Linked DNA regions of Homo sapiens. The protein of the gene in region 1 interacts with the protein of each later gene in a pairwise test. Each region holds a gene or a part of one and is shown in the gene's direction. Other genes may lie near its edges. The genes, in order: TGFB1I1 and HIPK3.

The links.
Region 2: the proteins of TGFB1I1 (region 1) and HIPK3 interact in a two-hybrid assay, tested with the Homo sapiens proteins (one large-scale study listed by BioGRID and IntAct).

Annotation. Positions count from the first base shown.
Region 1 is NC_000016.10:31,474,930-31,478,553, forward strand, and holds the end of TGFB1I1 (transforming growth factor beta-1-induced transcript 1 protein), read left to right. Parts: intron 1-1,082; coding exon 1,083-1,256; intron 1,257-1,551; coding exon 1,552-1,633; intron 1,634-1,932; coding exon 1,933-2,081; intron 2,082-2,380; coding exon 2,381-2,647; 3' UTR 2,648-3,029; downstream 3,030-3,624. UniProt on the Homo sapiens protein: Functions as a molecular adapter coordinating multiple protein-protein interactions at the focal adhesion complex and in the nucleus. Links various intracellular signaling modules to plasma membrane receptors and regulates the Wnt and TGFB signaling pathways.
Region 2 is NC_000011.10:33,284,670-33,288,486, forward strand, and holds part of HIPK3 (homeodomain-interacting protein kinase 3), read left to right. Parts: intron 1-1,743; coding exon of another isoform or gene 1,744-1,745; coding exon 1,746-2,842; intron 2,843-3,817. UniProt on the Homo sapiens protein: Serine/threonine-protein kinase involved in transcription regulation, apoptosis and steroidogenic gene expression. Phosphorylates JUN and RUNX2. Seems to negatively regulate apoptosis by promoting FADD phosphorylation.

The DNA of each region.
Region 1 (3,624 bases):
GGTAGGGTGAAAATTCCAACCATGTTACCATTTATTGTGGTCCTACTGTGTGCCAGGCACTGTGCCAGCTCCTTTACAAACCCTCATCTCATCTGATCTTCACAAAACACTCTGTGGCTCCACCCAATATCTCTCAGGCATCTACAAAGGCTCTCTCTTCCTCCGTCAGAGTCTGGACTGGGTTCACTGGTCCTTGTTTTATTGACTGAGCAGATGTGATTGACAACAGCTGTGCCTAGGGGTTAACCTAGTGCCCCCTGCTAGATCAAGTACCTGACTCCCAGCCCAGAATTGCCCATCTCAGCAAAGGAGGGTGGCATTGTGACTTTTGTGGATCATAGGCACTTTCATCTTCATGAGTCCCTTCGTCCATTAAAATAAATAGATTTTTATGTCTGTGTTGGTGTAAAGATGGGTATGTTATTATTGTGTATTACAGCATTTTCTTCTAGTTCATTTTTTTATTCTGAATTTTTAAAAACGGATTTTTCACTTCCTCCCTCTTATTTATTTTGAGGCAAATTCTCACTCTTGTGACCCAAGCTGGAGTGCAGTGGTGCGATTGTGGCTCACTGCAGCCTCGACCTTCTGGGCTCAAGTGATCCTCCCAGCTCAGCCTCCCGAGTAGCTGGGACTAAAGGCGCCCGCCACCTCGCCCAGCTAATTTTATTTATTTATTGTAGAGATGGGGCTTCGCCATGTTGCCCAGGCTGGTCTCAAACTCCTGGACTCAAGTAATCCTCCCACCTCAGCCTCCCAAATGCTAGGATTAGAGGCACGAGCCACCCAGCCTGATCGTATTTTGATTTTAAAAAAATTAAAACGTTTTTATGGGCCCCTAAATGTATTGTGGGCTCCAGGCGCTGTGCCTGCTGTGCCTCATGTATAGGTCAATCCTGGAGCGCAGCTGGAAGACGGAACACGGGAGCTAGATCTCCATCGCTTACAGGCTGCGTGATCTCGAACACTGGATTCTTTATTCTGATCGCTCAGAGAGGACTCGAAAAACGCCGCGTAAATCTTGCCTCACTGGGCATGTGGTTGTCAGAGCCGCTCTGACCCGCCTCACCTCCCACTCGCAGGTGGTGACGGCTCTGGGCCGCGCCTGGCACCCCGAGCACTTCGTTTGCGGAGGCTGTTCCACCGCCCTGGGAGGCAGCAGCTTCTTCGAGAAGGATGGAGCCCCCTTCTGCCCCGAGTGCTACTTTGAGCGCTTCTCGCCAAGATGTGGCTTCTGCAACCAGCCCATCCGACACGTGAGCCCCGCCCGGCCGCACCGAGCCCGCCCTATCTCACCAGGAGAGCTGTGGGACGGGCCTCCACCGCATGGGTCCCGCCCCACCCGCGATACCCCACTCCACCCCTACCCCTTCCCCTTGGCAATGTCCACGGCCCCTTGGACTCCACTCTTCCTTTCTGACCCCCACGTTCCTAGTTAGATCTTCTCCCCCTCCCCCCACGCATGCCTTAGTCCAGTCACCCGGGTTCCGCGCGGGAGAGGAAGGCGCGAAGGCACGGAGGCCGCGCTGAGTGCCCTCTCCCTCCCTGCAGAAGATGGTGACCGCCTTGGGCACTCACTGGCACCCAGAGCATTTCTGCTGCGTCAGTTGCGGGGAGCCCTTCGGAGATGAGGGTGAGAGTGAACTCGACTCCCATCTTAAAAGCTGCGGGTCCCCTCGACGTCTCGCCCCAGCCCCTCCGACCTCCGGAGTCCTCAGGGCCATGGTTTTCCTTCTGCTCTCTTCTGGCCCTGCCCTCTCCTACACAGACTCCGGACCCGAGCCCTCCCCGCTCTGTCCCGCCATAGACCCGGCTCCTCCTTCCCCAAGGCTCCCTCGGACTGCCCCTCCTTCGGCCCCAGATCTCAGGTCTTGTGGGTCCCCCGTCCCGCCCGCACCCTTTGCTTTCAGCCCACTCGGTTCCCTCTCCTAGGTTTCCACGAGCGCGAGGGCCGCCCCTACTGCCGCCGGGACTTCCTGCAGCTGTTCGCCCCGCGCTGCCAGGGCTGCCAGGGCCCCATCCTGGATAACTACATCTCGGCGCTCAGCGCGCTCTGGCACCCGGACTGTTTCGTCTGCAGGGTGCGAGCTGCGGGGCGGGGCGTTGGAGGGGCGGGTCAAGGGTACAGGGCTGTGGGGCGGGGCCTTGGAGGGGCGGGTCAAGGGTGCAGGGCAGGGGGCGGGCCCTCGGGGGGGCGGGTCACGGGAGGTGCTGCTAGGAACCTCGGGTGGGGCGAGTTTTCCGGGCAGGGTCCCACCGGACGGGATTCTTCGCGTCTAGGGCGGGCTGCGGGGTCCCAGGGCGTTATCCGCTAGTAACGCGCGTTGTCTGGCAGTGGCCGCTGACCTGTCTGTCCTCTTTCGCGGCTTCCCTTCCCCAGGAATGCTTCGCGCCCTTCTCGGGAGGCAGCTTTTTCGAGCACGAGGGCCGCCCGTTGTGCGAGAACCACTTCCACGCACGACGCGGCTCGCTGTGCGCCACGTGTGGCCTCCCTGTGACCGGCCGCTGCGTGTCGGCCCTGGGTCGCCGCTTCCACCCGGACCACTTCACATGCACCTTCTGCCTGCGCCCGCTCACCAAGGGGTCCTTCCAGGAGCGCGCCGGCAAGCCCTACTGCCAGCCCTGCTTCCTGAAGCTCTTCGGCTGACAGCCCGCTCGGCTCGCCCTCTCCCCCGGAGGCCGCGCCCTCCCGGAAAAGCCGGGTCCTCCAGACCCCGAGGCCTTGCTCTCAGAGCGGGAGGCCCCACCCACTGGAGAGCCCCGCCCCTAAGGTACTATGAGTCCTCAGGGGTCAAGTTCAGAAACGGCCCAGCCAGACCTAAACCCACACGCCCACAAAGTGGATTGCACACAGACAAGAACTCCCGTGCGGGCCTCCACTCTATTCCCACCCTTGAGGGAGCCCCCTTACTGGGGGAGGGTCCTTGCAATTCCAGCGAATCGGAGGCCAGGCCAGGACGTCCTTGCTCCCTGCACCCTCACTGTTCTGTGCACTTTTTCTACCTACATAAACACACGCATTCCACCTCTCCCTGGTGCTGTCTCTGAATGCGCGCAGGAGCTTGGCCCTGACTCCCCACCCCCGCGCTGGCTCTGTCCCCGGCCGTCTCTAGGTCACTGCCCTGTGGCCGCAGCGGGACCTGCAGCCTCAGCCCTTGCAGGTAGCCACTCCTGCACTTCCTACTTCAAGTATCAGATGAGCCTGAGGCTGGAAAGTGTGGCGACTCGCGCAGGACTGTACAGATAGTGGCAGAGCCAGGACAAGAGCTCCAACTGGGGCCCCACCGAATATTCCCGCCCTCATTACTCTTTCTTCAGTTCTATATTTTGTTTTGTTTTGTTTTGTCCTAAGAGATGAGGTCTCACTTTGTCGCCCAGGCTGGAGTACAGTGGTGCCATAGCTCACTGCAACCTCGAACTCCTGGTCTTGAGCGATCCTCCCGCCTTGGCCTCCCAAAGTACTGGGATTGCAGGTGTGAGCCACTGTGCCCGCCCTTCCCTTTATTCTTGAAATAAGCGCTTACAGTGGTTCATGCCTGTAATCCTGGCACTGTGGGAGGCCAGGGCGGGTGAATCACTTGAGGCCAGGAGTTTGAGACCAGCCTGGCCAACATGGGGAAACCC
Region 2 (3,817 bases), on another chromosome or scaffold:
CAGAAAAACATTAAGAGAACATAATGCAAAGTTCCTGTATCTGGCTTCTCAGCTTATTTTTACACTTGATCATTTGTATTAGGATTTTACCATTAGGGAAATTCCAAGATAATTTTGTGCAAGTAGAAAACATGGAGTATTACTTAAAGTGATGATTCTGTCAAATGGTGGTTTTGACGTACACGTTTATATATTGTTGTGGCAGACCAAGTAGATGGAAGGCAGATCTAACACCTGTGTAATTATCAGTTTTTCTAGCTATGGTACTGAGGATTCATTCTTATGTGTGTATATGTTTTGAGTTCCTATAGATAGGTCAGCAGTTGCTAGGTTGATTTCATATTTTATAAATTCTAATTTGGTAAAATAAGGTCATAGGGGAGAATATTAAATATGCCAGAATAAAACTGGATCCTCTTTCATATCTATGTTATATCTGAATCAAATAATGTTTATAAAATCATTATACATTTAATGGTTGTGTGGTAAGAATGTTGGCTATTTCAGCCTCAATAAACTCACATCCTTTTTGGATGCAGGCATAAAATAAATAGAATGTCATTTAGTCCTTGAGAACCTTAGAATGATTTTAAATCTGTTTTTCAAATATGATTTGAAATTTGATTTGAAAATATGATTTGAAAATTTCAAATATTTTCCAATATATTTGGAGGAAGTTTAAAGGAATATCCATATAATAAAGTACACATTGAGAAGAATGGGAACATGAATATAACTGGGTAGAAAGTCATTAACTTGTCTTTGTAATATAATGCTTTTTAAGATCAAAGGATAATATTTTTAGTAAATAGAATGTAGCATCAGCTATTCATGAAATTGGCACCCTAATTTTATTTAAAATCCCTGCCATAGGTGGGGCATAGCGAAACTCTGTCTCAAAAAAAAAAAATATATATATATATATATAGTTAAAGCAGACATAGATTTTTTTTCCTCCTGAGGCAATTCTTGGGCTTTAGGTTTAAGAAATATGGCTATAAACTATGTTTATATAATGTATATTTTCTTTTCTTGTCATTGGTTCATACATTTGAATTTGGTAATAGAATGTTTTACTTTTGTCAAATGTGTACAGTTAAAGGATCTGTACTTTTTTTTTGAGACAGAGTCTTGCTCTGTCTCACAGGCTGAAGTGCAGTGGTGCAATCTCGGCTCACTGCAACCTCCACCTCCCAGGTTCAAGCGATTCTCCTCCCTCAGCCTCCCGAGTAGCTGGGACCACAGGCATGCACCACCATCCCCAGCTAATTTTTGCATTATTAGTAGAGTTGGGATTTCTTCACCGTGTTGGCCAGGCTGGTCTTGGACTCCTGACCTCAAGTGATCCAACTGCCTCAGCCTCTCAAAGTGCTAGGATTACAGGGATCTATACTTTTCTTTTGAGGGAAAATGTTGGCACCGTTTCTAGGGCATATTGGCCATTTCAGCTTCTCAGTAAATATTTGTTAAGTAATTAAATGCACTTGATTCTTTATTCTTAGCCTTTTAACGCAATACTCAGAATAGCTGAAGCACCAATTAACTGAAATGGAGATATTATAAAGATAGTTATCTTCTCCAAGGGAAAAAATCATCTTCATGGAAATTAATTACTTTTTTACAAATTGTGAATTTGACCCTTAAGAGTTTTCTTCCTGATATTTAAAATTGAAAAAAAAATTGTTGACATTAATATTTCTTCTTTCCTTTTTTTTCTTTTCCTTTTTTTTTTTTTTTTTGCAGGTATGGCCTCACAAGTCTTGGTCTACCCACCATATGTTTATCAAACTCAGTCAAGTGCCTTTTGTAGTGTGAAGAAACTCAAAGTAGAGCCAAGCAGTTGTGTATTCCAGGAAAGAAACTATCCACGGACCTATGTGAATGGTAGAAACTTTGGAAATTCTCATCCTCCCACTAAGGGTAGTGCTTTTCAGACAAAGATACCATTTAATAGACCTCGAGGACACAACTTTTCATTGCAGACAAGTGCTGTTGTTTTGAAAAACACTGCAGGTGCTACAAAGGTCATAGCAGCTCAGGCACAGCAAGCTCACGTGCAGGCACCTCAGATTGGGGCGTGGCGAAACAGATTGCATTTCCTAGAAGGCCCCCAGCGATGTGGATTGAAGCGCAAGAGTGAGGAGTTGGATAATCATAGCAGCGCAATGCAGATTGTCGATGAATTGTCCATACTTCCTGCAATGTTGCAAACCAACATGGGAAATCCAGTGACAGTTGTGACAGCTACCACAGGATCAAAACAGAATTGTACCACTGGAGAAGGTGACTATCAGTTAGTACAGCATGAAGTCTTATGCTCCATGAAAAATACTTACGAAGTCCTTGATTTTCTTGGTCGAGGCACGTTTGGCCAGGTAGTTAAATGCTGGAAAAGAGGGACAAATGAAATTGTAGCAATCAAAATTTTGAAGAATCATCCTTCTTATGCCCGTCAAGGTCAAATAGAAGTGAGCATATTAGCAAGGCTCAGTACTGAAAATGCTGATGAATATAACTTTGTACGAGCTTATGAATGCTTTCAGCACCGTAACCATACTTGTTTAGTCTTTGAGATGCTGGAACAAAACTTGTATGACTTTCTGAAACAAAATAAATTTAGTCCCCTGCCACTAAAAGTGATTCGGCCCATTCTTCAACAAGTGGCCACTGCACTGAAAAAATTGAAAAGTCTTGGTTTAATTCATGCTGATCTCAAGCCAGAGAATATTATGTTGGTGGATCCTGTTCGGCAGCCTTACAGGGTTAAAGTAATAGACTTTGGGTCGGCCAGTCATGTATCAAAGACTGTTTGTTCAACATATCTACAATCTCGGTACTACAGGTAGGTAACAACTCCATACTTTTTGGTTGTTTATTAATGTGAAATTTCTGCTAAATGAAATACTTTTGTGTGTGTTTGTGGTAGAAGAGACCACTTCAGTTAAATAAGGAAATCAAGAGAGGATCAATTTAGGTTCGTTTTAAAGAGATTAAAAAAAATCAAGACATAAAATCTACCCAAGCAGGATAGAAATCTCCACTGCAAAGTTCCATGCCAAAGACATCTGGTTATTTTTATTTTTAATGGAAGACTTGAAGGAATGATAGGTGATTAATAATGATCAAACAGAAGTCTTTAAATGTTGGAAAGTATTTACATTAATCTTTGTATATATCATTGGGCATTTTAGCACTTGAGAGAAATAGTTTATTAAAGATATAATCAATCATATGTAACTGAACATTTAGAAAAATTATATACAGGTTTGAGTAGCCCTTATCTGAAACTTTTGGGGCCAGAAGTGTTTTGGATTCCAGATTTTTCCGGATTTTGGAATATTTGCACTGCCAACTAGTTAAGCACCCCCAAATTTGAAAATTCGTTTCCTTTGAGTGTCATGTCAATGCCCAAAAAGTTTCAGATATTTGGATTTGAGATGCTCAACCTGTATAAGGATTCAGAAAGTTATTCTGATTAATGATTTTAAGATTCAGATATACAGCCGGGTGCAGTGGCTCATGCCTGTAATCCCTGCACTTAGGGAGGCTGAGGCGGGTGGATGACCTGAGGTTAGGAGTTCAAGACCAGCCTGGCCAACATGGCGAAACCCCCATCTCTACTAAAAATAACAAAAATTAGCTGGGTGTGGTGGTGGGTGTCTATAATCCCAGCAACTTGGGAGGCTGAGGCAGGAGAATCACTTGAACCCAGGAGATGGAGGTTGCAGTGAGCCGAGATCATGCCATTGCACTCCAGCCTGGGCCACAAGAGCAAAACTCTGTCTCAAAAAAACAAAACAAAACACAAATATACTTC